Regions from separate parts of the Homo sapiens genome. Here region 2 is linked to region 1. Evidence: fine-mapped expression QTL. A gene starts in region 1. The other region holds a variant in brackets. All regions are shown on one strand. Distances are from middle to middle.

Evidence for each region.
Region 2: its variant is fine-mapped to the expression of BRD1 in whole blood (INTERVAL, PIP 0.96).

The regions. Positions count from the first base shown.
Region 1 is chr22:49,822,421-49,836,925 of GRCh38, forward strand. It overlaps BRD1 (bromodomain containing 1), which reads right to left and starts at 5,453. Exons shown (of 13, transcript NM_001304808.3): 1 at 5,077-5,453; 2 at 531-1,911. The coding sequence starts at 1,897. LOC105377205 (a long non-coding RNA gene) reads right to left here. Exons shown (of 5, transcript NR_188597.1): 5 at 10,029-11,267. RefSeq lists enhancers at 2,129-2,708, 3,918-4,117 and silencers at 4,618-4,787, 5,518-5,587.
Region 2 is chr22:49,774,225-49,788,729 of GRCh38, forward strand. It overlaps BRD1 (bromodomain containing 1), which reads right to left. Exons shown (of 13, transcript NM_001304808.3): 8 at 13,166-13,663; 9 at 3,454-3,589; 10 at 2,810-2,937; 11 at 1,826-1,935; 12 at 1,367-1,521; 13 at 1-192. The coding sequence ends at 9. Among named protein-coding and RNA genes, the nearest start is that of BRD1, 46 kb to the right of the region's middle. The variant A/T (reference allele first, on the strand shown) is at 9,017.

The DNA of each region.
Region 1 (14,505 bases):
TTAAAAAAAAAAAAGGCTGAGCAAGTGCTGTAATTCCAGCACTTTGGGAAGCCAAGGCGGGCAGATCACTTGAGGTCAGGCGTTTGAGACCAGCCTAGCCAACATGGTGAAACCCCGTCTCTACTTAAAAAATACAAAAATTTGTCGGGCATGGTGGCGCACGCCTGCAGTCCCAGCTACTCAGGAGTCTGAGGCAGGAGAATTGCTTGAACCCAGGAGGCGGGGGTTGCAGTGAGCTGAGATTGCGCCACTATACTCCAGCCTGGGCGACAGAGTAAAACTCCGTCTCCAAAAAAAAAAACATAGAAAACTACAGATTATTCCAAGCCTACAGACTAAAATCTTTTACAACATCTATTCCCCAAAAAGACGTGGTAAACAAGCAGAACCACACTTCAGGGGAATATTAGGAAGCTGCGCCAACTAGAAACGCAATGACCACACAGCACGGGCCCTGCAGGCTGTGCCCACGTCCTCCCAGGGTCCCACACTGCAGGCTCCTTGTGGACTCAATGCTTGGACACGCTTACCTCTGCGGGGGAATATAAGGAGCGCACACGGTCGGCAGGACCGCGCAGGGCTCAGCCAGAGCTTTCTTAGCCTTTTTTGCCTTCTTCCTGACCTTGGATGTGGACCTGACCGTTTTAACCGAGCTCTCTTTTCGACAGACGCCATTTTTCATTTCGACATCCCCGTAAATATTCAGAGGCCTCCGGGTGCAGCCTGGAGGCGTGTGGACATCACAGTAAGCGGTCTTTCTGACGGAGAAGGTGGTGCCACCGCCAGTCAGTTCCTTCACGGGCTCCATTTTCATGTACAGGCCAGCCTTCTGGGCACACGTCACATGGAATGCTGTGTAGCAGTTTGCTTTGTGGCACTGGATGCAGGCACCCACGCCCTTCTGCTTACAGAGGTAGCATGTCAGTTTCCACCGGGCTGGAGGGATGTTCCTCACCCCATCGATGGGCTCGATGAACACCGTGTTGGCAAAGCCGACCTCTGGGATCCACAGGGCACACACCACGTGACCCCAGCGGTCGTCATCTGTCTTTTTGAAGGCACCACCCTTGTTGGGGCACAGCACACAGTCGGCGGGCCGGGCCCGCGACTGCAGGCAGTGGCGGCAGAGCCACTGGCCCTCGGGGATGTAGGGCACCCCGTAGCACTCCTGGTGCACGGCCAGGTTGCACATGTCGCAGAAGAGGATCACGTTGCTGTTCTGACACTCCCCGTCCATGCAGATGCAGCACACGGCGTCCTCGTCGATCAGAGACTGCTGCTCGCCCTGCTTCTGGTTCTCGCAGTGCGACTCCTTCTCGAAGCGGTCCATCAGGAACTCAAACATGCTCTGCGACACGGCGGGGACGCAGTCGCCCTTGCGCTTCTCATTGACGATCTCCAGCCAGGCATAGTCCTCCTCGTCCATGTCATACTCCACCTCGTTGTCCAGTTCCTCGGCCGACTTCTCGATGAACTTGTAGTACACAGGAGGCCTCCTGGGGGCGGACGGAGGGCTGTACTCCACGATGCGCACCTTGGGCTCCGGGAGGGCACTGGCCGAGGCCGGCGTGCCGTGGGCGCTGGGGAGGGCCTCGTTTTTCTTTTTGACTCTGTTGTTTTTGTGACGCTTAGTTCTTAAGCAGACAGGAGGCCGCTCGCTGTTTTCCTTGTTGCTGTTGCACTCACTCATCTCTTGAGCAGTGAGGTCATCTTCCAATATGATCTCCAGGGGATCAAAAATACTGATCCTGTGCAAGCGCCCTTCAATTTCTATCTCTACCATCCTTTGAGCTTGAGCGTAGGTCAGCGTTTCTCGCGTAGGGGAGTGTTTAACACTGCATGGGGAAGAAGGATGCCTCGCTGCAGAGCCTCGATGACATCGTCCTTTCCTCCTCATTTGGTAATGATTACCTAAAATGAAGGCAAAAGTAAAGGTAATTCTACGCAGGGTGACCAAAGACTCGAGAAAACCACAAAAGCATGCTTGGACAGATCTAGCTCAGCAGCTCAAAGCCCAATCAAAGCAAAACTCACAGCTAACCTCTTTCCAAGGTGTCCAAAACCACACATCCAGGCCTGAGCGAGTCCCCAGGACCAGGGAGGGAGCAGCAGTAACAGGCAGAGAGGCAGCCTGAGGAGCCCTCCTGAGCACCTGCGTCCCTACCACCACACACCAGTCCCCTCTCAGACCACACCAACAGGCTGCGGAGACCACAGCAACGCTCCCCAAGGAGGAGGGGTCCGGCCCAGAGCCCACAGTTGCAGGACTTTCCCAGCATGCAGGCGGTCCCCCAGGAAGTCCACATACAGGGCTGGACCCCACCAGGCACAGAGGCTATGCCCACCAGACAGGCATGCTCAGTGGCTACCTGGTCCTATCGGATGCTCCCCCTAAACCACTCTTCCCCTCCCCACTACTCCCAGGAGAGCACTCCCATGAGCCCAGAGTCACCACAGTCCTTGCAGCATTCCTGCTGGGGCCAGGGGTAGGAGACAGATCACAGCCTGTCCATCCTCTATAGACAGGCCCTCCACACGCACAACACGGCACAGGGGACCAACAGGGGAGCCCTGTACTGGTCTGAGGGGACAGTCTTGGCCCCTGGGAGGCCCCAACCCCGCTTCTGCAGAGCCTTGGCAGTGACCACCATGGAAACCACCACAGGCTGAGCCAACCTGCCCCTTCCCCTCAGGGGCACTCCTCAAGCCCCACTGAGACCATGGTGCTGGCCACGTCCTCCTCCTTCCACGTCCTCCTCCTTTCTGAGAGAATCCAGACACATGCATGACGCCAAAGGGAATCTCTGTTCTCCCCGGCACACGTGAAGGCAGACGCTCCACTCAGGCTCCACAGCGAGGGGTGACCCCCAGGAACCCCTCGCTGCTTGCAGAGACCCTCACCAGGAGGGTCGCCAGCGCTGGCTCAGGTGCCTGAAGACTTGGCCACAGAGGCTTAGGAGAATCTGCTTTTCCAGAGGTAGGCAAAACCAGTGAGCTGCCTCCCATACCTCCAGCTCCTCGTGGCAGAGGCCTCTGCTGTCCCAACACCACGGACTGCGTCTATTCCTAGCTGTCCCCAGGGTGCCTGGTGTGTGGACACCTCCTGTGAAGACCACCGCCTGCTGGGCAGTGCCTCCCTCCAAAGCGCCACACTTCACTGACAGGAAGCAAAATGATTTTTCAGTGACTGACTCGCAAAACAAATATTCTCAGCTGAAGCCCAAGGCATACTCTGCATCTAGCCCTGCCACGTCAGGGACGCCTGGCCTCGGGGCCCAGGGGGATCAGGGGCACCCACAGCAGCCTTACCCTGATCTATTGGGCCTGAGAAAAAGCCCTCAGGGAGCAGGCTTCCCTCTGTGAGTCCCGAAAGGAAATCCCAGCAGACTTCAAGAGCACTTCTTAAGACAGACCCTCCAGACACTGGGTATCTTTCTCTGTATCAGACAGAAATCCTCATTGTATGTTGAAACTAGATTGCAATTACCTACAGAAAGGAATAGGAGAGAAAATGTGGTCGGCCAAACCTCAGACCCCCTGCATCTCCAGGGCCTCCAGGTACCCACTCAACCCTGGATTCCTGGGGAGCTGTCAGCACAGCCACCCCCCAGCCGGCCCCGTGAGCCCTGCAGAGGTGACACCACAGCCTGCAGAGAGCGACCCTAGTGCACCCGGGACGCCGACACGCGTCATTACTGAGGTGGGGCAGAAGCAACAGTTGGTTACTCACCAGATCAGAAACGAACCTGTCATTTTCCCCTCGACAGCAAAGTCCTGAGTCGCCCTAACGACAAGCAGCCCCTGGAAACCCACTCTCTCCCAGGGAGCCGTGAAGCTCTTCATCGCAACACTTTCTACAAGGGGAGAACTGAACCGAAGGCTTCACGGCCACAGCAGCTCCATACCCTCAACATGCAACTGGGACCCGGGGAAAGTAGGCCCTCAGCAGGGCAGGGCGACCCACGACCTCCTCTGCTTCACCGCTTCCCCCCTGGGCCGGTTCTGTCCCTGGCCCTTCCACTGGGACAAGCATTTCCACTGGGAGGGATCCGCGGGGGCACACACGTAGCTTCTCAAGGAATAATTCCCTTAAGTACATCGAAGAGCCCTGCGGGCCACAGGCGGGGAAGGCTGCCCACAAGACGGCCGCTTCCATCTTCCCACCGCCCGCCCAGGGAGAAGCCGGCCACGCGCCGGGCCTCTCGGTCAAGGCCACAGGGGCCGCGGCCGCTGAGCTGTGCGAAGTTGTGTGCAGCACACAGCACTCGGGACGGCGCTGGGCCGGCCAAACAAAAACATCCGCCGATTCCACTAACTACACAACCACCTGGCGACAGACCCTCAAAAACAGACACGGGCGGCCGCGCTTTCTGGGGAGACGGGGCCGCACCCCGCGGGGCAGGGGGTCCCGCTGCTACGGATTCTCAGAACTCCCGCGTCCGCTCACAAGAGCCGCGTTTCCCGTGAACTGCGCCTCAATCGTGTCACTCGTTTTAAAAGGCCCGGGGAAGCCTCGCGTTCGTCGCGAGGCGTCTCCCTGCAAACGCCCGGGGAGGCCGCGGTGCCGGTTCCCAAGCCCGGCCGCCGCAGGCCGCGCGGCTCCTGGGCGATCTCGGGGCGCGTCCCTGCTCACAGGGAGTTCCCGTCTTGGCAGAGCTCGGCGGGCCTGTCTGTTACATAAGGGGCGGCCCGGCCGGCTCGGCGGCTGCCCGAGGCCCGACCCGACTCGAGCGCGGACTCCGGGCAGGCGCCCGCGGCCCAGGCCGCCGAGACCCACAGCCCGACTCGGCCTCCCTCGACTCCCCGGCCTGACCTACCCGGTCTCCCCGCCCGGCCTCCCCGTCTTCCCGCCCGTCTCCCCGGCCGCCCGGCCCGACCTCCCCGGTCTCCCCGCCCGGCCTCCCCGGCATCCCGGGCTCCCGGCCCGCAGACAATGCGGAGCCGCCGCCGCCGCCGCCGCCGCCAAACATGGCGTCGGCACCACAACCCCGAGAGGCCGGGCCGAGGCGGCGGCGGCGGCCGGGCGGCCCGCGAGGCGGCGGGGAGGCCTCCCCGGCCAGGCCCCCGCCCACTCACCTTCGGGGCGCCGCGGCCGCGGGAGCCCGGCAAGCGGGCGGGCGCGGGGGCCGGCGCGGCCGAGGCGGTGCTAATGGCGCCCGCGGCTCCTCCGCCAACGGCCGCGCAGGCCGGGCCCCGCCGCCGCTCCTGGGCGCGGGCCCCTCTCGGCCGCGGCGGCTCCGGGCCCGGCAGCGGCGGCCGCGGACTCTCGGGCAGCGGCTCGCGCGGCGCGGGCTCGGGCTCGGGGCCCAGCTGGAGGCCCGGCTCGGGGGGCCCGGCCGGCGGGCGCGGGCGCGGGCGCGGGAGCGGGCGGCGGGCGGCGGGCGCGGGACGCGGGGCTGGCTCGGACTCCAGGGCCGGGTCGCTCGCTCGCTCCCCAGCGAAGCAAACAATGCGGCGAGCGCTCCGCCCGGCGCGCTGCGTGCGAGACGCGCCCCGCCCGCCGCCGCCATGACGCGCGGACTCCGCTGCCTCGGCCGCGCGCGGGGGAGGGGGCGCCGCGAGGAGCGGGGGCCAAAGGGGGCCCTGAGGCGGCGGGGACCGGGCTGGGAGTGGGGGGTCGGGAGGATGGAGAGTGGGGGCCCTTGAGTTAGGGAGGACCGGGCCAGAAGGTCCCTGAGGGGGTCAGGAGGATGGAGAATGAGGGGCCCTGAGGCAGGGGGACGTAGGCCTAGGAGTGGGGGGCCCCGAGGCAGGTGGGGAGCAGCCGGGAGTCGGGGGCTTTGAAGCAGGGGGGTACCGGCTGGGAGTGGGGGTCCCTGAGGCAGAAGGGCATTGGCCCAGGAGTGGGGTCGCTGAGGCAGGAGATGGCCCAGGAGTGGGCGGCTCTGAGGCAGGGGCTACCACCGGCCTGGAGTGGGGGGCCCACAGGCGGGGGGACGGGCCGGGAGTGGGGGTACCTGAGGCAGAAGGACATTGGCCCGGGAGTGGGGGGCCCCGAGGCAGGATGGGGGAGCAGCCGCCAGTCGGGGGCCCTGACGGGGGAACGGCCAGGAGTGGGGGTCCCTGAGGCGGGGGGGACCAGCTGAGAGTGGGAGTCCCTGAGGCAGAAGGCCATTGGCCCAGGAATGGGGGGCCCTGAGGCAGGGGGCGATTGGCCCACGAGTTGGTGGGGGCCTGAGGCAGGGGGCGATTGGCCCACGAGTGGGGGGAGGCCTGAGGCAGGGGGCGATTGGCCCATGAGTGGGGGGCCCTGAGGCAGGAGGCTATTGGTCCGGGAGTGGAGGTCCCTAAGAGGACAGAGGGGGCCCTGCGGGGGCACTGGGTGGGAGTGGAAAGGGCACTGGCCGGGACACGCGACTAGGTAGAGGTGGGTGGTGCAGCCGGGCTGGGGAGCCTCCCCTAGTGAGTGTCAGGCCCGGTGTGCAAGTAGTCCTGCCAGTGTGAGGGCCCTGCCGAGGCCGGCGTGAAGCAGATGCCCTTTAAGGTTGCAAGAAAAGGCCCCTGCGGGTGGGAGTTGAGAGGCCTGAGTCTCTGCCTTCACTTTGGCCTTTTGTGTAAACTCTAAAATTCAGTGGGGTCATAACAATTTTCACTCCAAGATTAAATCCCAAATGTTTTAAGGTGAGGCAGGAGCTCCTTGGTTTCCTTGAGAATTTGTGATCAGGACGATGGTGCTGTGGAATCCCTGGGTTCCAGCAGCACAGCCTGTGGCATCCAGGCAGGCCCCTCAGGAAGAGCAGCTGTCCACCCTGGGACAGACCGTCCCCACGGGGGCAGCCGAGCGGCCCCACTGCTCGGGGCACTGCACCAAACACCTTATTGGGAGTGGGGTGGCCTTGTTCGCCCAAGTGTCCCTGATAGGGGCCAGGCCCCACAGGCCTTTTCCTGGCCAGTCCTCATGCCCATGGCACCCAGTGTGTGGGTTGTGACGTGACGACTCAAGGGCAGGTAGGACCCCAGCCAAGGCCCCAGTGGTCAGTCCTGATCTAGGACTCCCTGCAGACACACCCTTGAGCTTAGGGGGTACAGGCCACTGGGGCCCTGACCTCTTCTGCACCAGACCCAGGAGCTTCGTGTCACCTCCATTCTACAGATGTCTGTTTACCTGTGGCCAAACAAGCAAGCTGAGCCCGAACGCTTCTCTCCTCCACCTCAGGGAAGCCAGATGGAAACCAAGCTGGAGGTTCTCCACAACACAGAGCAAAAGTAAGACACAGTCTCATGAAAGAGAAGATGAAAAGACACGAAACCCTTCACAGAAGAGGAGACGGGGACAGTGGCCTCTCAGACAATGCAGGTGATGCTCAGAGGAGTGAAGAACAAAGCCTCGAACGTAGGCATGTCACAGGGATACTCAGGAAGGCCTTCGGAGAGGATCTTCTTTAGAATTCAGACTCATCCTACAGAGGAGGGGTTGCCAAAATACTAAGAGAATTGAACCGTAACTCATACACAGTGAAACTAGCGTTCCAGTGAGACAGCAAAATAAAGGTGTCTTCACCGCCGGTTAACATCCACATTTACCACACACGCAGTCTGTAAAAGTACTAGAAGAAATACCTTAACAAAGTGAAAAGTGGACCCAAGAGTAAGACGTGGATGCCAGCAAGTAAATCAGTCTGGTCCGTTAAAAGAAAATCAACCTGAGAGAAATCCCGGATGAACTCAACATGACACATGGTAAGGCGGGGCGCAGAAGGAAGTGAAAGTGCACGAAAGCTCTTGTATTGTTTGGTTCGAGGATTTTAGAATCGATAGAAAAAAAGGTTAAAAATTTTAGCTGGGCATGGTGGCTCACACCTGTAATCCCAGCACTTTGGGAGGCCGAGGCGGGCAGACTACCTGAGGTCGGGAGTTCAAGACCAGCCTGATCAACATGGAGAAACCCCATCTCTACTAAAAATACAAAAAAAAAAAAATTAGCCGGGCGTGGCGGCGCATGCCTGTAATCCCACTACTTGGGAGGCTGAGGCAGGAGAATTGGTTGAAACTGGGAGGTGGAGGTTACAGTGAGCTGAGATGGTGCCATTGCACTCCAGCCTGGGCAACAAGAGCAAAACTCCATCTCAAAAAAACAAAAAAAAAAAGTTTTAACTATCAGAAAGTTTCCACAAGAATGGTGGAAAAAGAATTTACCACTTTCAGAACAGCTGAGGAAAAAGCGAAATGAAAAACGACAGCAGCAACAACAAAAAAAAAACAGGAATGAGTAAAAGATAAAATCATGATAAATACAGAACATAATATGAGTTGGCAGAACTAAGTTCAAACATTTGAGTAATCAGAGGAATGTGATTGGATTAAATGCATCTATTAAAAGACAACCTCTCTGAATGGAATATAAATATGGTGAAATATTCTTACAAGAAATTCACCTGAAAAATAACAGATGAAAAATAAAACGATGGGGCCAGGCACAGTGGCTCATGCCTGTAATCCCAACACTTTGGGAGACCGAGGCAGGTGCATCACCTGAGGTCAGGAGTTCAAGACCTGACCAACATAGTGAAACCCCATCTCTACTAAAAATAGAAAAATTAGCCAGGCATGGGGGCACGTGCCTGTAATCCCAGCTACTCAGGAGGCTGAGGCAGGAGAATCACTTGAACCCAGGAGGCTGAGGTTGCAGTGAGGCAAGATTGCCCCACTGCACTCCAGCCTGAGTGACAGAGCAAGACTCCATTTCGTAAATGAAAGGATGGAAATTATCATATGTTTGTTCCTCAAAAGGCACCATAAAGAGACTGAAGAATGAAAAACTAAAAGATATGTACACCTTGCAGATGATTAGTATTTAGAATATATAGAGAACCCCTTCAGATCCATTAGAAAGAGACAAACAAGCCAACAAAATGATGCACAAAACCCAAATCAACAAAGAAACCCATGTCATAATCAGGCTTCTTGCAGAGAACATGGAAAGGCCAATCATCTTACTAGTAAATTTGGAAATGCAAACAAAATACACACCAAATAGGCACCAGCGTTCATATGTGGCAATACTCAGCGATGGCAAGATGGCAGAGCAATACCCTGCTGGCCAGAATGTCGAGTGGGACAATTATTTGGTAAATATCTTGGTCATAAGGCGTTACCCAGTGAAAGTGGACATGTTTATCAGTTACCTCTTGCTGCAAAACAAACCACCCCCAAAACTTTGTAGCTCAAAACAGCAGTCATTCCTTTTGTTCACACATCTGCTATTTGGGCAGGATTCAGCAGGTACAACTAGACTACTTCCTGCATCCTTATCTGGGGCACCTCCACTAGGGGCTGGAGGAGCCACTTCCAAGATGGTGCACTCACGTGGCTGGGACCTTGATCCAGGCTCTGGGCTGAGGGCCTTGGGAACATCCTCATGGAATAGTAGCCATGCTGCAGGAGCAAGGGTCTCAAGAGAAGCAGGTGGGACCTGTATCACTTTTCACATCCTAGCTTCTGAAGTCACACGCATCACTTCTGCCATAGGGACAAGCCTGTCCAGATTCAAGAGTTAGGGAGAATACAGACCCCACCTCTTGGGACATGTGTTATCATCACATTTTAAGAGAAGCATGCTGTATGGGAGAAGTTGTTGTGGCCACTTTGAGAAGATGCAAGCTCCCCCAGTGTGCATACCCATTCCCGGCTGTAGGGTTAAGTCAATTTGTATTCCTAGGTGCATTCCGTGCCTGGGTGTGTGCCTAAGAAACCTGTTCATCAGGGCCGGGCGCCGTGGCTCACGCCTGTAATCCCAGCAGTTTGGGAGGCTGAGGCAGGCAGATCATGAGGTCAGGAGATTGAGACCATCCTGGCTAACACGGTGAAACCCCATCTCTACTAAAAATACAAAAAATTAGCCAGGAGGCTGAGGCAGGAGAATGGTGTGAACCCAGGAGGCAGAGTTTGCAGTGAGCAGAGATTGCGCCACTGCACTCCAGCCTGGGCAACAGAGCAAGACTCCATCTAAAAAAAAAAAAAAAAAAAGAAAAGAAAAAAAGAAACTTGTTCATCAGGAAGCATGTGCATGAATGTTCAGAGCAACACTGTTTTTGGTGTTTTTTTTTTTTTATTTTAACGCTGTTTTTAATAGCAAATACTGGGAGAAATCTTAAATATCAAAGGACGGTAAAATGGACAAAGTGAGGTGTATCCACGCAATGGAATAGCACACAGCAACAGAAATGAATGAATTCCACCACCAACACGGCCAAATCTCAAACACATAATTTTAAATGGAAGAAAGAAATCTCAAAAGATTACAGAATATGATTCCATTTACACTCAGCAGACAGAGCTAGGAAATAAGTATGTACAAACACACACACACACACACACACACACACACACACACACACACACACACCCATATCTTTTCTGATACCTCTTAGCAAACCTTGAGTTCATACTGATACCTGTACCTCCAGTTACAATCTAGCATGGAGTTGATTCTACCCTCCTCTGTTTCTACATAACTATCTATGCCTTCACTTAGTAGCTCAGTCCCCCGCTACATAACCATCTCTAGGCTATACAGGACAGAAACTTGGCCCCAGACACAACCACTGCCCCCCATTTTGCACCAGCCAAAAATGCGGTTCTGGGGGCATCACTGCTCTCCAGAATGGTTATATCTGCAGGCTGAAAGCACAGCCCAAGAAAAGGCAAGGAGGAGGATGCTCATGTTGTTTCTGATATTCTGTTTCTGGCAGGAATAAGACAAAACCCTTCTTCTTTGATCTATCTCACCTTTAATTTATTTAATTTTTATTTTTACCCGGTATCTGCAACAATCTACTTTAGGAGACTATCCTTTCACAAACATTAAAACGTTCTTTAAATGGTGTTTTTCTCACTTCAGAATTCAGGAAAAATAGTTTTACTGACATTTACTTTTAATAAAAACGTAGTAATTTGCATTGTTGCAGTAGAAATTTGTCCTCCTTGTCACCAGGATATAATCAGACAAATTAATAGTGGAGCCCAGGCCTTACATGGGTGTCATATTTGAGAATAACTTTCCTGTGCTTCCACAACACGCCCACCTTTAAGGAACAAGGGTTGTGGCTTGTGTGCTGAACCAATGCCCACACAACCCTCAGACCCATACTGGCCGGGCACCTGTACTCTGGCACACAAAGCCTCAGCCTCACAAGTAGTAAGAAGGATACTTCCTGGCAGGCCAAGAGCCATGGCAGACACTGGAACCTTCTGGAAGATAGAAACTTGCACACACACAGGTCCCGCGGGCACACCTGAGGGAGGTGGATTTGGTTCGGCTTCCTGGCCTAGGAACAGAAGAGCAAATAAGAGAAATTAAAAAACAAAAAATCTCAGGTGTGATGTAGGCTCAGTCCTACATTCCTTATGATGACACGTCCAGACAGAAGTTGATTTTCCGGCTTGGTCATTGCATAACGCCATCTGGTTTACATGTGTCACCTAACAAGGACACTCGTGCGTGGTAATTACCACTTCTTGCAGCACCTGTGTAGATGAATTAGGTCAGAATGCAAGACTAGCTTTCTGTGGTCAAGAATAACCTTCGGAGATTATTTATCATCCCAAGAGGGAGCTAATAAAAATGTCCCAGATTAAGGATTAGACACCCCAAAATGAGTGTGTCCATTCAGTGGCAGGCTATGTTCCTGAGCAAGCCTGCCAGGCAGATTTTCGGATCCTCTGGAGTGTGCGCCTGCTTAACTTGCTATATACTATTGATTACGATATTTTACAACTCAGCAAGGGTAGACTTTAATTTGTTGAAGATAGATGGCTAAGTAAAATTATTCCTCTCTGACAGCAATGCAAATAAATTTTGCCCAGTAGTGAGTGATAGAAATTATTTCTGTCCAGTGGAAAAGATTACAGTAAAAAAGGTTGCAGTTTGACTGGGCGCAGTGGCTCACGCCTGTAATCCCAGCACTTTGGGAGGCCAAGGTGGGAGGATCACCTGAGGTCAGGAGTTCGAGACCAGCCTGGCCAACATGGTGAACCCTTGTCTCTACTAAAAATACAAAAATCAGCCGGGCGTGGTGGTGGGCGCCTGTAATCCCAGCTACTCAGGAGGCTGAGGCAGGAGAATTGCTTGAACCTGGGAGGCGGAGGTTGCAGTGAGCTGAGATCAAGCTATTGCACTCCAGCCCGGGCGACAGAACAAGACTCCATCTCAAAAAAAAAAGAAAAGAAAAAAAGAAAAGGTTGCGGTTTATGGCCCTGTAGAACATTAACCAGTTTTTTTAAAAATCTAAATAAGCAGAATTACTCAAACTTTTTTAAGTCACTACAAATACTTCCTTCTCTCCAATCTTTTGAACCAGCCTCACCATCATGCTGGTTTCCTCATTAATGATTAAAATAAATCTTTGACACGTCTTCACTTTAGAGTTGTATGAGTCATGTTTTTAACTTTTTTTTTTTTTAAGACGGAGTCTCGCTCTGTCACCCAGGCTGGAGTGCAGTGGCGCGATCTCAGCTCACAGCAAACTCCACCTCCCAGGTTCATGCCATTCTCCTGCCTCAGCCTCCCAAGTAGCTGGGACTACAGGCACCCACCACCACGCCCGGCTAATTTTTTTTTTTTTTTTTGTATTTTTAGTAGAGAAGGGGTTTCACCATGTTAGCCAGGATGGTCTCGATCTCCTGACCTCGTGATCCGCCCACCTCGGCCTGCCAAAGTGCTGGGATTACACGCGTGAGCCACCGCGCCTGGCCCTGTTTCTAACTTTTTAAAAAGTATGCTTTGACAGCTCCAACATCTAGCTGCCTTCTCAGCCTCTCCTCCAGGATGTCCTGTAGGCATCTCGAACTCAACGTATCTGGCACTCAGCTTTTGGTCTTCATCCCCAAACTTCTCTGCTGTCTCCTTCCTCGGTTATGGGTTGAATTGTGTCCCCCCTGCAAAAGGTATGGTGAAGTCCTAAGCACAGTACCTGGGAATATGAGCTAATTTGGAAATAGGGTCTTTGCAGATATAAAGTTAGGATGAGGCCAGGTGCAGTGGCTCACGCCTGTAATCCCAGCACTTTGGGAGGCTGAGGCGGGCGGATCACCTGAGGTCAGGAGTTTGAGACCAGCCTGACCAACGTGGTGAAACCCCGACTCTACTAAAAATACAAAAATTAGCTGGGCATGGTGGCGCATGCCTGTAGTCCTAGCTACTCACAAGGCTGAGGCAGGGGTATCACTTGAACCTGGGAGGCGGAGGTTGCAATGAGCAGAGATTGCGCCACTGCACTCCAGCCTGGGCAATAGAGTAAGACTCCATCTCAAAAAATAAATAAATAAATAAGAATAAATAATAGGCCGGGTGTAGTGGCAAAAAATAAATAAATAAATAAGAATAAATAATAGGCCGGGTGTAGTGGCTCAAGCCTGTAATCCCAGCACTTTGGGAGGCCAAGGCAGGCAGATCACGAGGTCAGCAGATGGAGACCATCCTGGCTAACACGGTGAAAACCTGTCTGTACTAAAAATACACAAATATAGCCAGGCGTGGTGATGGGTGCCTGTAGTCCCAGATACTTGGGAGGCTTAGGCAGGAGAATGGCGTGAACCCAGGAGGTGGAGCTTGCAGTGAGCTGAGATCGTGCCACTGCACTCCAGCCTGGGCGACAGAGCAAGACTCCATCTCAAAAAAAAAAACAACAAAAAAGACATAAGAAAAAAAAGAATAAATAATAATAATAATAATAATTAAGTTAGGATGAGGTCATTGAGTTGGGCCCTAATCTAATGACTGGTATCCCTTTCTAAATTACACAATCTGCTAACCTTCTCTGTATCATTCCAATTTTAGTGTATGTGCTGCTGAAGCAAGCACCTGGTATTCTTATAAGAAGAGAAATTGGGACACAGACACACAGAGCAAAGACAGCTATGTGACAATGGAGACAGAGCAGAGTAATGTGGCCACAAGCCAAGGAATGCAAAGTATTGACGGCCACCAGAAGCCGAAAGAGGCAGGAAAGACCCCTCTTTATGGGTTTCAGAGGGAACACAGTCCTGCTGATGCCTGGACTTCGGGCTTCCGACCTCCAGAGCTGTGGGAGAGTGAGTTGCTGCCATTCTCAGCCCCCCAGGCTGTGGCGCTTTGTCATAGCAGCCATAGGACATGAATCCACTTTCTCAGCTAAGGCAACTCCGGGCTTCCTAGGTGAGAGGCACTCCTGCACTGCTCATGTCTGACCCGCTGGCAAAGCCTGTCGGCTCCCCTTTCAAAATAAGTCCAGAGCCAGCCCTGTGTCACCGCCTCCTCTGTTCCCTCAACACCTCTCACCTGGATTATCCCAGTAGCCTGACCCACCTCTCTGCTTCACCCTTGTACCCCTCTGCCTCTTCCTCTCTACAGCAGCCCAAGTGACAGCATCTCCTGCGTTTAACACCTTCCACTGGCTTCCCATCTCCCTGGGAATAAAAGCCACAGTCCTCAACTCCACAACAAAAAACACAGAACCTGATTTTTTTTTTTTTTTGAGACGGAGTCTCACTCTGTCGCCCAGGCTGGAGTGCTGCGGCGCGATCTTG
Region 2 (14,505 bases), 48 kb before region 1:
CCGGGCCGTCAGTCAATGTCACTGAGGTCGCTGGTCGGCTCCCCGTGGACGCGGCTCAGGTGGTTCATGGCGCGGTCAAAAGCGATCCGCACGGCCTTCCGGATGCTGGAATTCCTCCCTTCCATCATCTTTAACTTGTCTATAGTTTCGTCAATACCAAGGGGAACCATTTTGGACTTAGGAAGCCACTGCCTTTTTAAAAGGAAAAACAAGCGGAAAATCATTGCTTGCACATGGTATTTCAGCAGGCTCCATGTAATCATCTAACAAATTCACTGCCCTCCGATAGAAAGGGGCCCTGCTCAGCACCACCAAGACAGCTGGGCCCCGTGCAGGGACAGGCCCGAGGCCAGGAGTGCACCCCTCCCTTCCCCTCCCCGACTTGGGGATACGGGGAGCTAAGTAAGGCATAAAAACCATCACCTCCTCCTCCACCTCCAAAACGTTTCCCAGTGCCTGCTTAGTGACAAGACATGCACACACCAAGCCCAGAGTCAGGGTGGGCCCTGGAGCAGAGGCCGGTGGTTGGGGAGACCCCATCAAAGGGGCCCTCGGATGGACAAGGTGTGGGCCTCGCTCAAGGCCTGACAAGAAGCAGTGGCCACGTGGCCAAAGAGGCAGAGGTCGAGGCAAGGAAGAGAAAGACGGTAGGGATGCCTGTGCTGCCAGTCCTGCTCCAGGCACACCATAGGCAGGTGGCCCCGAGCCCCTGCGCCAGGTCCCAAGTGCAGCCAGCTCCACGGGGAACCAGGAAGCACCTGCCCGGGCCACGTGCGCAGGGCACAGCCGGGGCCACAGCTCCTCCCAGAGGCATGTGCTGCCAGCGTGTCCTGCACAGAGGGATCTTGGGGTCTAAACCCTGGCACATGAGGGTCCCAGACGCTCTGGGGAAAAGCAGCTCAGGGCACAGGGGGAGCCTCCTGTGATGGGGTGGATGTCTGAGCAGAGCTGGATGATGCTGGGACAGAAGGCTCTAAGAACAGGGCCAGAGGCCAGGCCCGGGCAGGGGCCATGTCCTGCAGTACAGGGGTCCGGGAGCACAGCAGAGGGACCCCCAACACTGGAGCGGACACATGGGTAAGGAGTAGGGAAGAGACAGTCCAGACCAATGGGGCTCAGGCGAGAGGGAGAGGAAGCCATCGGGCAGAGACAGACCCGGTGCTCAGTGCCCGTCCCACAGTCCCGGCGAGGGGGCTGGGCAGTGCCCTTCTCCACCAGGCAAACAGCGGAGCACTCACCTCCGACTTTAGCTGTGCCAGGGCCCAGCAGACAAAGACGCTGCTCACCACAGGGACACTCAGGTCACCGAGCCCACGGCCCCCAACCACCCCAGCCGGTCCCCGGAGTCTAAGGCCTCTCAACTCACCAACTTCTCTTATTATCAAAAAAGAGAACGAGGAACAGCTTCTCATCAGACTTGGTCTGCATGTGCTCCCCAATCTTCAGCACGTCCAGGGGTGGGGCCGGGATGGTGACGCCGTTGTGGTGGCCAGGCACACGGGGCATCTTGGGGTCGATGATCTGCACGAGAAGGACCCGCTGAGGTCATTGTGAGGCTCACACCCATAAACAACCCCACCTGTCACTGGCACCCCCCCCCGCCTCCCCACCCCAGCTGTGTGAGCCTCCTCAGACCACCCCCACGCCCCCCTCGCCGAACCACCCCTGCCCCTTCCAGCTGTGTGAACCTCCTCTGACCAACCCCGCCCCCCCGCCAGCTGTGGAACCTCCTTGGACCACCGCCGTGAGCCTCCTCGGACCACCCCCGCCCCGCAGCTGTGTGAGCCTCCTCTGGACCCGCAGGCGCCACGAGAGCCGTACTCACCAGTGCCGGGTAGGAGGGGTAGCCGCTGCACTTGGCCCACACCACCTTCAGAGGCTCCAGCACCGAGGCGGCGGCATCAGTGGAGATCCACATGCTGCTCTGGCCGACTTCTGCGGAGAGGGGCGTCAGCAGGACACAGGCGTCAGCAGGACACGGGGCACGCCCCGCCCCCCCACAAAAGGTGCAGCAACAGGGTGGGTCCCCCGAGCACAGCCCAGCTCCCAGGCCTTTCTCAGCCACCCCGGCAGCACCACTGCCTCCCCTGTGGGGTCCAGGCCCTTGCATCCCCACTGTCCCTGCAGCCCACCTGGGGCCACCAGCCTCCCACGGACCCAGGGAAGCTCCTGCCCTCCAGGCTACAAGGCTCCAACTCCAGGTGCCCAGCACAGTCCCTTCTGAGCCCTCCTTGCCGCAAGGACGGGGCTCCCAGCATGCTCCTGCCTCATTTACACAACTGACACCCCAAATGGGAAACCAAAGTCCTGGCTCCCCCTCCGCCAGACCAGCTCCCTGCTGTCCCTCCCACCTGGGGGATCTCCGTCCTGATGCCCCCTCACAGCATGGCTGCCTTCCACAGTGAGGGCTGTGCGACCCCAAACCCTGGGGCCTCCCCCTCCCCCAGGGGCCTGAAGTTGAGGGCACCCACCCTGCAGTCAGTCCCCTGTGCAGCTGCAAATGACCACTGAACCTAAACAACCCCAGACAGCCTTGACAGTGCCTGGCAACCAGCAGCCACACAGAGCTGGACGTTCCACAGGGAAACGAAGGCAGGATGGAGGAGGCGCCACCTCCGCAGGCACCCCGGCAGGGCCACAGCCCAGAGCCCCTCGGTGTGTGATGAACCCTTCCCCGGGAGGTTGGCCAGGGTGGGGCTCCACACAGGGCACCATGCTCCCTGAGCCGGAGTCCAGTCCCCAGCAGTCGAGCCCTAAGACGCTAACCAGGAGGTGTGGAGAGCCATGGAGGCAGGTCCGGGCGACTCACCGGCTGCGATCCTGGCCGCCTTGGCGTAGTTCCCATTCTCGATGCAGGAGATCAGCTCACTGCGGTCCTCCAGCGTGTGCCGTCGCACAAGAGCCGGTTTGCCCCGCCCACATTTGGGCGCATTAAAGCTTCGGGAGGAAGAGCAGAGGGAGTCAGGCGCCCCGCCCCTGCCTTCAGCCTCACTCGGGCTTCGTCCCGTGAGCTGTCCGCCACCAAGCTGGCCACGCATCCTGCCTGACACCCCCGCGGCCAGACGGGCCTGTGGGTGCGCAGGTCTGGAGGGAGTGAACCTGTGGCAGGGGGGACTCAGGAGGCCAAAGTGGCCTTCACAGGGCAGACAGGCAGGGCTGTGCTCATTGCCAGATTCTGGGAGGTAAAGATCAAGTGTAAAACTTCATTGCAGATTCTAAAATTGTGTTCCTATTTCACGCAGTGTTTTTCCTACTTCTGCTTGAATTCTATAAAGCAGATTAATATGCAGCATGGGAAACTGTCCACAAGGGCAGAGCACACATGAATCCCAGGCCAGAATTTTTCAGAGAACACTAAGATGGGAGCTGGAATGTCCCGGCTTCCAGGACAGCCAGGCGGGGCGGGCGGTGCTGGGAGCTGCGTGGTGGGAAGCGCAGGGCCGCGGTGCCCACCTCGAGTCGCAGAGCGGGCTGTTGCTGGAGGAGATGCTGGACTCGGAGGCACAGCGTCGTCGGGGTGTGGCCTTCCTCCCCAGGCCGCCGCCCGGCTCCTGCTCGCTCCTCGCACCCCCAAAGCCGTTGGTGAGACCTGGAACACAGGCGGGCAGGCCCTGAGCTCAGCACAACCAGGGCACACTGAAGCATGACTCAACGACGTTACACTTGGAACACATCTTACAAAGCACGTTTCACAGACAGGTAAGACAGCATCTTCCTTTTCACTCCCAAGTTCCCGAGCATAGTCCTTACAGTAAGCAGACACCAAAGTTACTCGTTAAATGAAATCAACTTAACAAACTGCAGTCGGCTCCGATCGTAGTAGTTTGCTGAGCACCATGAAGATGCTCCTCTTGACAAGCCCGGGTCTTTAGACAGGCTCTGTGAAGGCAAAGAAAGGATGCCGTGAGCCTGCCATGGGGGCAGATGTGCAACCTGTGAGTGCAAACACGGGGGCGGCCTGTCCACGTGGGCACCGGCCGCGTTTGAACGGAAACTTCACCAGGCCGAAGGGGCCACCAAAGACACAAAAACATGTTCACAGGAGCAGAGCTCCAGGGAATAGGAAATCAGGTTTTAAAAAGAAAAAACCTTGGTTCAAAAGACAAGTGTTAACATGAAGTCAAAAATGCTGACGAAACACTTTAAAACACAAAATCCGGGGCCATCGCCGTGTCTGAGTGTGTCTGGCCTCACTCACCATGAAGCTGCAAGTACTGTACACAGCTAAACAAAACACCACTCACAATTCCATCATCTCAATGTTTAAAAAATAAGGCAAATCTCAGTATTTTCCCCCTAAAAATCCTGACTTTGTCAGTCAACGGGAAACAACACATCTGCCCAAGGCCCCCCGATGAGGTCCCCCATGGGAGTCACAACGGGGGGATGATGTTCCTGCTGGGGGCCCTCTGGGTGTCAGAGCTAAAGGGGTGTGTGATTTTTTTTTTCTTTTTTGAGGCGGAGTCTCACTCTGTCGCCCAGGCTGGAGTGCAGTGGCACGATCTTGGCTCACTGCAAGCTCCACCTCCCGGGTTCACGCCATTCTCCTGCCTCAGCCTCCCGAGTAGCTGGGACTACAGGCGCCCGCCACCATGCCTGGCTAATTTTTTGTATTTTTAGTAGAGACGGAGTTTCACCGTGTTAGCCAGGATGGTCTCAATCTCCTGACCTCGTGATCCGCCTGCCTCGGCCTCCCAAAGTGCTGGGATTACAGGCATGAGCCATGACACCCGGCCATGTGAATTTTTTTATCCAAAAAGAACCCCGTTTTCCTGCCTACCTACCTCATCCTTAAAAAATTTTTAAATCTATTTCCAAAGGAAATTATGTAAATTTGTAAATAGAGCATTTCTGTAGAATTTTTTTGGAAACGATGTCTCACTCTGTCACCAAGGATGGAGTGCAATGGACTCCATGGCTCACTGCAACCTTGACCTCCTGGGCTCAAGTGATCCTCCTGCCTCAGCCTCCTGAGTGGCTGGGAGGCATGTTTTGAAGGGAATGGCTGGACTGCGGGATTTTCCACCCGCTTCGTACGCTTCCCGTCTGTTCTCAATGAGCACGACCGACTTTTCAATACAGGGGCTGAATCAGCCTCCACCCGCTTCATACACTTGCTGTCTGTTCTCAATGAGCATGACTGACTGAAACAGAGGGGCTAAATCAAGCTCAGAAGGGAATGCACAGATTGGGCGGGTGCACTGCTGCCCTCCACAGACTCAAGTCAGACACCGGCTCCGTCTCTCCTGGACTGGAATGTACCGTGACCTCCAAGGGAAGCTCTGTGTTTCTCATTTTAACCTCGGTCATTTTAAGGCAGGAACTGTGGCCAGTTGGGGGTGTCATACTCATTTCTGGCAAGGGAACAAATAAATTTAAAAACCTACAGGAGAAGGCCTTGAGCCACACGCTGAGCTGCCCTGGGGCTCCACATGCTCCCCATACTCATCACAGAGTGGGCTCAGACCCTGCACACTCAGGCCCCGAAGATGTCTCAAGAGGGAATTAAAAGTCCCGTCCTGGCCCCCGAGAACCCCTCAGGAGCAGCGACTCCATCCCTACTCCAACCTGAGTGGGTGAAGGCAAGGGAAGCCCACCCAGCTCGCATCAGCAGTGGACGGACGGAGCCCAGCACCCCTGCCAGCATTCAGCCCACAGGCCCGGAGAGGGGTCTGCCAACGCGTGTGACCCGTCTCCAGAGAGCAGCCACGAGCCTGGCGACCCACACCCCACAGCCCGGCCCCCAGCACACTCCAGACCCCAGGTGCAGGGTGAGCCTGCTCCAGGCTGAACAGACGCAGCCCAGGGCCTGGGTGGGGAGGCTTTTAGTAGTTACTGGTTGGCCGAGCAACGGCCACTTGGGGGAAGACGATGACCAGTGCGGCCTTCACAAGACTGCCCAGAGGTGCCAGCCTGAGGGCCCTAGCACGAGATCACCCGCAGCTGTGCCAGCACCAACACAGCCAAGCCATGCACAGACCACTCAGCAGCCACGACGGCCCCGGCTCCGTGTGCATGGAGTGGGGCCAGGAAGGGGATTAAAACACAAGGCAAGTCCTTAATTCTCAGAAAGAGGAGAATGATAAAATGCCCCTCTTAATTTTCCTAAGCATTCAGTGAGTGCGCGTATGACGCAAGAACACACAGAGGTTCTGCGTGTCACCCATGAAAATGTGACAGCACCCGGGAAGACGTGGGCAGCACAGACAAACCCAGCCCAACCGAGACACCACCCAGCAGGAGGCCTGGCGGGGGTGGGACAGCTGCAAGGCTTGCTAACAGGCGGTCTGGGGGCTGCGGCAGTGCGGGGTCACCCAGGAAGCCAAGAAGCCAGACCAGGACACAGACACATCCCGGGAGGCTCTGCAGCCACCGCCTGGAGTCCCCAGAACCTCGGGGGAGCTGCAAGGTGGCCTGCGCTGCCCGGACCCTCCCAGCCTCCACCTGGACCACCAGAAAATAATCTAAGACAGCTATGGTTCTGAGATCTCTCAATCTCGGCCCTGCCAACTCCCGCCCTGGGAGGCTCTTCCAGCCAGCTGGGAGATGTCCACCATGACCCGCACCTCAGCACCCCTGCAAGGACCTCAGCCCAGAACATTCTGAAGCCCAGGCCAGCCTTGAGGTGGGGCCCAACGTGGGGAACCCAGGGCCTAAGGTCTGCAGAGATGGGTGCCCGGTCCATGAGGCATTTGCAAACAGCAGGCACTGAGGCCGAGCCCAAGCCTCTAAATCATGTAAATAGCAAGGGGCAACTTTCAGCAACTTTTTCAGCACGAGGTTTTTTTTTAACGCTGAAAGTAAAGCTGGTGACTGTGAGAAATACGTTAAAAGAGGCGGCGGCTGCCAGGAAAGAGCCGCTGCCCCATCAACACAGGAGCTGCACGGAATTCCCACAGCGGCCAGGGTCCACCCACCCTCAAGGGCCTTCCCAGTGACCTCCTAGGAGGCCAAAGACTGAACACAGAAATGTCCCTCTCTGCCCCCAAAGGAGATGGCGCAAAGGTGTCCCACAGCCCAGCCAAGCGCAGTCCCCGGAAGCCTGCCCGTCACCAGGTACGTCCACAGCACACCTGAAACTGTCCCGGGAGGTCCCCAAAGGGTCTTCTGAGAGACTGAAGGCCACAGCGGCTGAGACACCGCCCCTCCCCACAGGGAAGAGAAGCCCCAGGGCCCACCTGGGGAGGCGGAGGCCTGCAGGTCTGACTGATGGGCCGTAGTCTCCTCTGGTCTCAGGCTCCCAGCCCCCAACCCATGTGGACACCACAAATCCTCCAGGCCACAGGTGTAAGAACACCAGGCCCTGATCAGTGGCTGCCGAGACACCTGAGGGCACGGAGCCATGGGAACGCAACCCCACAACACGGGATACAAGCCCGCCCCTGCCCGCCCCTGCCGCTGGCACCCAAGCTGCCACCTCGGCTTCTCCGGCTCATGGGAAGCTTGGCCGTATGAAGCAGGTGGGCTGAGCCTGCACCCTGAAGACCAGAGCCCTGAGGGCCCCACGCAGTGACAAAGGAGAGCCCACTATCTCCTGTTTTCAGTTTCACTTTTACCATCGTTAAAAGAAGAGCAGTTTTGGTGCATTTTTCAACCTCTCAACAAAAACACACACGGAAGAAGATTCCAACAGCACCCTGCTCTTGCTGGGACCTGCTCCGTGACAATGCAGCCGGGGACGGTCAGAGACCGACCCAAGGCCCATGTTGCTGGGACCTGCTCCGTGACAATGCAGCCGGGACGGTCCGAGACAGACCCAAGGCCCAGGCCAGATGCCTGCACAAGACTTGCTCCGTGACAATGCAGCCGGGGACGGTCAGAGACAGACCCAAGGCCTATGTTGCTGGGACCCGCTCCGTGACAATGCAGCTGGGACGGTCAGAGACAGACCCAAGGCCCAGGCCAGACGCCTGCACGAGACCTGCTCTTGCTGGGACCTGCTCCGTGACAATGCAGCCGGGGACGGTCAGAGACAGACCCAAGGCCCATGTTGCTGGGACCCGCTCCGTGACAATGCAGCTGGGATGGTCAGAGACAGAACCAAGGCCCAGGCCAGACGCCTGCACGAGACCTGCTCTTGCTGGGACCTGCTCCGTGACAATGCAGCCGGGGATGGTCAGAAACAGACCCAAGGCCCATCTTGCTGGGACCCACTCCGCGACAATGCAGCTGGGATGGTCAGAGACAGACCCAAGGCCCAGGCCAGATGCCTGCACAAGACTTGCTCTGTGACAATGCCGCTGGGGACAGTCAGAGACAGACCCAAGGCCCATCTTGCTGGGACCTGCTCCATGACAATGCAGCTGGGACGGTCAGAGACAGACCCAAGGCCCATCGTGCTGGGACTCGCTCCGTGACAATGCAGCTGGGATGGTCAGAGACAGAACCAAGGCCCAGGCCAGACGCCTGCACGAGACCTGCTCTTGCTGGGACCCACTCCGCGACAATGCAGCTGGGATGGTCAGAGACAGACCCAAGGCCCAGGCCAGATGCCTGCACAAGACTTGCTCTGTGACAATGCCGCTGGGGACAGTCAGAGACAGACCCAAAGCCCATCTTGCTGGGACCTGCTCCATGACAATGCAGCTGGGACGGTCAGAGACAGACCCAAGGCCCATCGTGCTGGGACCCGCTCCGCGACAATGCAGCTGGGATGGTCAGAGACAGACCCAAGGCCCAGGCCAGATGCCTGCACAAGACTTGCTCTGTGACAATGCCGCTGGGGACAGTCAGAGACAGACCCAAAGCCCATCTTGCTGGGACCTGCTCCATGACAATGCAGCTGGGACGGTCAGAGACAGACCCAAGGCCCATCGTGCTGGGACTCGCTCCGTGACAATGCAGCTGGGATGGTCAGAGACAGAACCAAGGCCCAGGCCAGACGCCTGCACGAGACCTGCTCTTGCTGGGACCCAGCTCCATGACAATGCAGCTGGGATGGTCAGAGACAGACCCAAGGCCCAGGACAGACGCCTGCACAAGATCCCACGCACAGATGCCCCACCCCACGAGCAGG[A/T]CTTCTCAGTTGGCCGCAGGGGCACTCAGCGTGGTGACCAGCAAGAGACAAACAGCAGCACTGCTCAAGAATCCACTGGGCATTGTGGGGAAAAAACAGAGGAAGGGGAAGTAAGGGGAGAAGGAAATCAGGTAGAAAACCCAGAAATACAGAAGATGCTAGCGAGTGAGTGAGCACGCACTGTCCATGCCACATCCTCAGACAGTGCCGAGCCAAGTTCCTCCATACCCCATGGCACAGACACAGCACAACGCGCCTGGGCATGGCCGTCACACCCAAACCACCAGTCACTATGGGACGGCTCCGCACATGCTCAGGACAGCCTCAGAATGCTGTCCACTGTGTCGTCAGCTGCAGCAGGCTCCCAGTCGGTGCCGGGCTCTCCTCTGCGTCCTTCGTGACTGTCCAGAGGGAAGGCTGAGGTGCCACGACATCCCGCCAGCTCCAGGCGTGCACCGGGCGCCAGCACCATTCCCACTGCCGGGCTCTGACTTACAGAGGGGGTGGGCTGGGGTGGGGGAGAGCTCCTCCAGGGCTGCTGTTTGTGATTTTGTCTAGAGGATGTTTGAGCTGATGATTCCAATGTGATCCGCAAGAATTAAGTGAAAGGCAAGATGCAGTGATCTTTGTGCATTCCAAAACGGCCGCTTAGCAGAACTCCAGTCCAAGTTGAGGTAAGAGAAAATGATTAGGGTCCAAAGAGTGAACTACCCAGCACATTAGTGGTTAAAGTGAGAACCTGGAAAACAGTGAAAAAGCCATTTAGTCTGAATGAAAGGGCAGGACAGCTCAGCCTCCTCCCTGAACAGCCGAAGGACACTGAAGACACCCCCGCGCTCTCACGCCCCAGCACGTGCACATGGAGACTCGCAACAGGGGTCTCCGCAACGGCAGCGAGTGGACAAAGACATCCCCACACTCTCAAGCCCCAGCACATGCACACAGAGACTCGCAGCAGGGGTCTCCGCAACGGCGGTGAGTGGACAAAGACACCCCCGCGCTCTCACGCCCCAGCACGTGCACAGGGAGACTCGCGGCAGGGGTCTCCGCAACGGCGGCGAGTAGACAAAGACACCCCCACGCTCTCACACGCCCCAGCACGTGCACACAGAGACTCGCAGCAGGGGTCTCCGCAACGGCGGCGAGTGGAAGGCCGCTTCAGGTGACGGTTCACTGCTGGTGAGCGTGCAGTCACGGAGGAAGGAAGCCACGAGTCAGGGCCAGACTCTGGGGCTGGGCCATCGCAGGAACAGAAGCCTGGCGCACAGCACAGCCGGCCCGCGGGCGACACGGGCAGGAGGCCCACAGTGAGTGCGTCGCCTCAGGACCAGCGACCCTGTTCAGCCTAACTCAGAATTGTGCGTGTGCTGGAAAATGCCAGATAACTCCCTAAAGTTCAGAGCACACAGATGCATGTATGGAAAACATCAGAAGGTTCCGGATAATTCCTGTCCTAAGACTGCGAAGAACTGCAGCTCTGGGCAAGAAATCCCCCATGTGCAGAGCACCAGAAGGTTCCGGTGAAACCAAAGCGAGGGCGGATGGCGGGACTGGCACCATTCAGAGCACGCCCAGCCCTTCCCCGGGCGCCTCGGCCACAGCAGTGGAATGCCTCCCACTCCCGAGGGCCTGGTCTTAATGCTGCTGAGGCTCCCGGCTGCTCAGGAGAGAGCTCAGGAACTCACCGCACCTCCACGGAAATCCACTGTCACTCGGAAATGAGAGAGCAGAAATCTCCACTTCAGTCAGGATCAGAGGGCACCATGATTCTCAAAAGCCACCATGGGCCACGCTCACTGAAGGTCTGCAGTAAGACTGCTCTACACCACCGTCACCACGGGAAGCCCGCAAAACACTCCACTCCAATGTAAGACAGTGGCCCGGAGGGGACACGTGCTCTTCTACAAGGGACATCTGATGAACGAGCCTGAGAGGTTGCTGAGGACGTGGCCGCCAGCCGGCAAAACTGTCCACAGTGGGAGCCCACAGCTGGGGCAGGGCCCGGTCAGGTGGGGCCACCTGGTGGAAACCACCACGTGAGCATCCTGCTGAGTGTCGACGGGAGGCCGCCTCAAACCCCAGCCCCACGGCCGGCAGGGCCTCCACGCACGCAGCCCCATACCTCTGCCGCCGACAGACGTGAAACCCCGAGGAAGTGGAGCGTCAGCCGAACTCCAAGTTCTGCATGCAGAGGGGACGCCCACAATTACACTGACCCAACCTCTAGTACCCAGTGCACAGCACCCTGACCCGATTCATCACAGAATTTCCGGGGTGCTTGGAAAACCAGGTCAGAGTCTTTCACCAAAGGTGGCTAAGAAAGACCAACGTGGTTAAGACACATCCCCCAGTCCTGAGTCAAGGACATCTATTCTTATTGGTATCTTGTGAAACATTTCAATAGCTTCCTATTACTTAGAAAGCAAAAAAGCTTTTTCAAATTATTTTAAAATGCCAATTTAACATCAATCCATCAAAGTAAAAGGACATGGGTAGAAAATTTCTACACATTCAGTTACGTGCAAAATTTTCATACAAATCAAAATGAAATTTACCAGAAATTACTTTGGCAACAAGACGCATGACCTGCTTGCTGGCAAGGGTAGGAAGTGAGCCTCCTTCTGCACAAAGACCTTTGACAGTGCCTGGTCTCACTCCCCTCCCCGGACGCTTCAGGCCAGAGACCAGCAGAAGGAACAGGGACAAGATGTGAGGGAGTGGCCTGGGCAGGTCTTGCCCACCACAGCCTTCCATCTGCACCCGGCCTGGTGAGGCTCCATGACACAGGACTCACTTGCTGCCACTCTGGGAAATAAGCAACACCCACCCAGCCCCACCCTCTCTCACTGCTCAAGTGCACGAGGCACCACGGCACACCAGCACAGCCAGGAGAAAATGCGCATCTCCTTATCTAGGTATAACAGGCAGACAGGACAGACGGGAACCAAGCCTTGACTCGGGACAAAAACCAAAATGACAAACATGCTCCAGACACGCTTCCAGAAAAGAGTCGCTGGCAACCTGAGCCGGCACCTCCAGAAGCGCAGCCAGTACCGAAGAAGCAAACCGATGACAGCTGCTCCTCTTTAAAGGACAAACTCCTCAGCTTCCTCTGAGGGGCGGGGAGCAGAGGCTGCAGGAACACAGCGGCCTCCTCAAAGTGCTCCCAGCACAGCACACACACGGCAACACCCTCACCGAGGAATTCAACAGAGTTCAGTTACAAAAGCGCAGCAAGAGATGAGAAGCGCTTTCCAGTGCTATTTCAGCAGGTCCTAATACCTCATCACATATGTGGCTAAGAGGGCCACATAAAACAATGAGTAAATGTTGCTGAAATCAACTGCAAAGTACTGCATTTACCACAGGGGCAGGTCCTCTCAGAGGTCCAGGGAAGGGCCAGGCTCAACCCCAGGTCCTAGGTCTGTGGGGCTGCAAGGAGACCTGACTGAGGGTTGCAGAGTCGAGCTCCCACAAGTGCTGGGAGCGGCCAGTCACCAGCTTATCCAGATGTGCACAGCAAAGTCAAGATGACCAATTAAAACTACACCTGAATTCATTCTCAGTACTTTTTTAAAGATCAGAAGGGGCCAGGTGCAGCGGCTCACACATCTAATCCCAACACTTTGGGAGTCAGAGGCCAGGAGTTCAAGACCAGCCGGGACAACACAGCGAGACCCCCATCTCTACCAAAAATTTTCAAATTAGCTGGGAGTGGTGGTGTGCACCTGTAGTCCCAGCTACACAAGAGGCTGAGGCAGGAGGATCACCTGAGCCCAGGAGTTGGAGGCTGCAGTGAGCCACTCACTCCAGCCTGGGTGACAAAGCAAGACTCTCTTAAAAAAAAATCAGAGAGGAAGTATGTGGCAGAAGACAGGACCAAGGACCATCGACCCCTGGCCCAGGGCAGCCCAGCAAGGTTGCACAATCTCTCGTGGCAAACAGGCCCCCCACGAAGGCGCCGGCCTCAGACCCGCAACTCAAGGCTTTTCAAAGAAAACACTGCACTGTTGTCTTCTCTGGAAATTAAGAGAATGCTGCAAAAACAGAAGCTGGACACCCCCCCCCCCCCGTCACACCAATGATCCTGAAGGACGCTCCAGGCACTGGTCGGCAAGGGCGCCTCTCAGGGCCGCCCGCGGCATTTACCTGCGTCCAGGCGCTTTCCTGGGGACTCCTCCTCCACCTCGGAGTCTCCGCATGTGCTCCGCGACCTTTTCCTTGGCTGCAGAAGAGTCTCCAACCTCGGAAGGACTACAGACAAAAAGGTTTTGGTCCCTAGCTGAGGAGAAGTTGGCTGGGTTTCAGTGTTCTTGGCAGACTTTGGGGGGCTTACACTTTTCGATTTGCAGAAGAGAACAGAAGTGCGTCTGTTTACATCGCTTGCTGGCTCCGCCACCGCGGAGGCCGCCGCCGCCGGCACATCGCCACTACTGGCGCGGGTGGGCTCTGGAGGGCGTCCGCTTACCAGTGCGCTCTGAGTGCAAGCGCTATGTGATTCATTATCAAATGTGACTCTTTTGAAAAGTTTACTCTGCTCTGGGTTGAGTTCTACTGGTTTGAGGGTTGGTGGTTCTGAATTAGTCTCCGAGTTTGAAGGAAGAGGTAATGCATCTGATGGTTCAAGTTTAGGGGGAGATTTATCTCCTGAAAAAATTATAAATAAAGTGATTTTTGAAAACTGAAGATTATAAAATCTATTATAAAACTTACTATAAATGTGAAGTCCACCAAAATACTAATTCAGTTAAGGAAACAAGGCATCGCATGTACTGTCTGCTCGGCAGTGTGGGCCCCGTGGGCTCGGGCCACACTGTGTGTGCTTCCCTAACGCCAAAGGCTGCGGCCCTGGGTGCAGTGCCCAGGCACACAGTTACTCTCTGAAAAAAACTGTGAAAGATTATTTCACATGCGCCAATATTAAACACGTCACTCGAGTTCATGACAGTTTCTGCAATGAATAATTCACTTACCTTGAGGAAGAAAAGGTATCTCACATAACTAAAGGGGCCTTAAACGGGCATTCCCACAGAGCTCTACTGGGCCACGAAGTTAGCAAATAAAAGGAAGGCAACATTAAATCTGATCTCTGGTCAAGGTCTTAAGTCAAAAATGCAAAAACAAACAAACAAACAAAAAAAACAGGGAGTGGTGAGTGGCTGTGGATGATTTTCAAGAAAGGCAGGGAAAAAAGCCCCGCTCCCCACAGCACAGAAGTCCGTGCCACGTTCCCAAATATTGTGATGGGAGCTTTCAGGAAAAAAAAATCTGACTTTTAAAAATAAGAAGTCTTTGGAAAAAGACGGCTTTAACCTCTTTTTAAAGTCTTTTTGACATTATAAAAACCGGAAGTGTGAAATGGTAAAAAGCCCGAGGTCAGGAGGACGGCCTGGGGCTGGTCTGTGGGGCTCTGTGCACTGTCCCGAGTCCAGGGGGCCGGACAGGCTCTGGCACGAGGCTAACAGGGCGAGGCGACGCCACAACAAGCC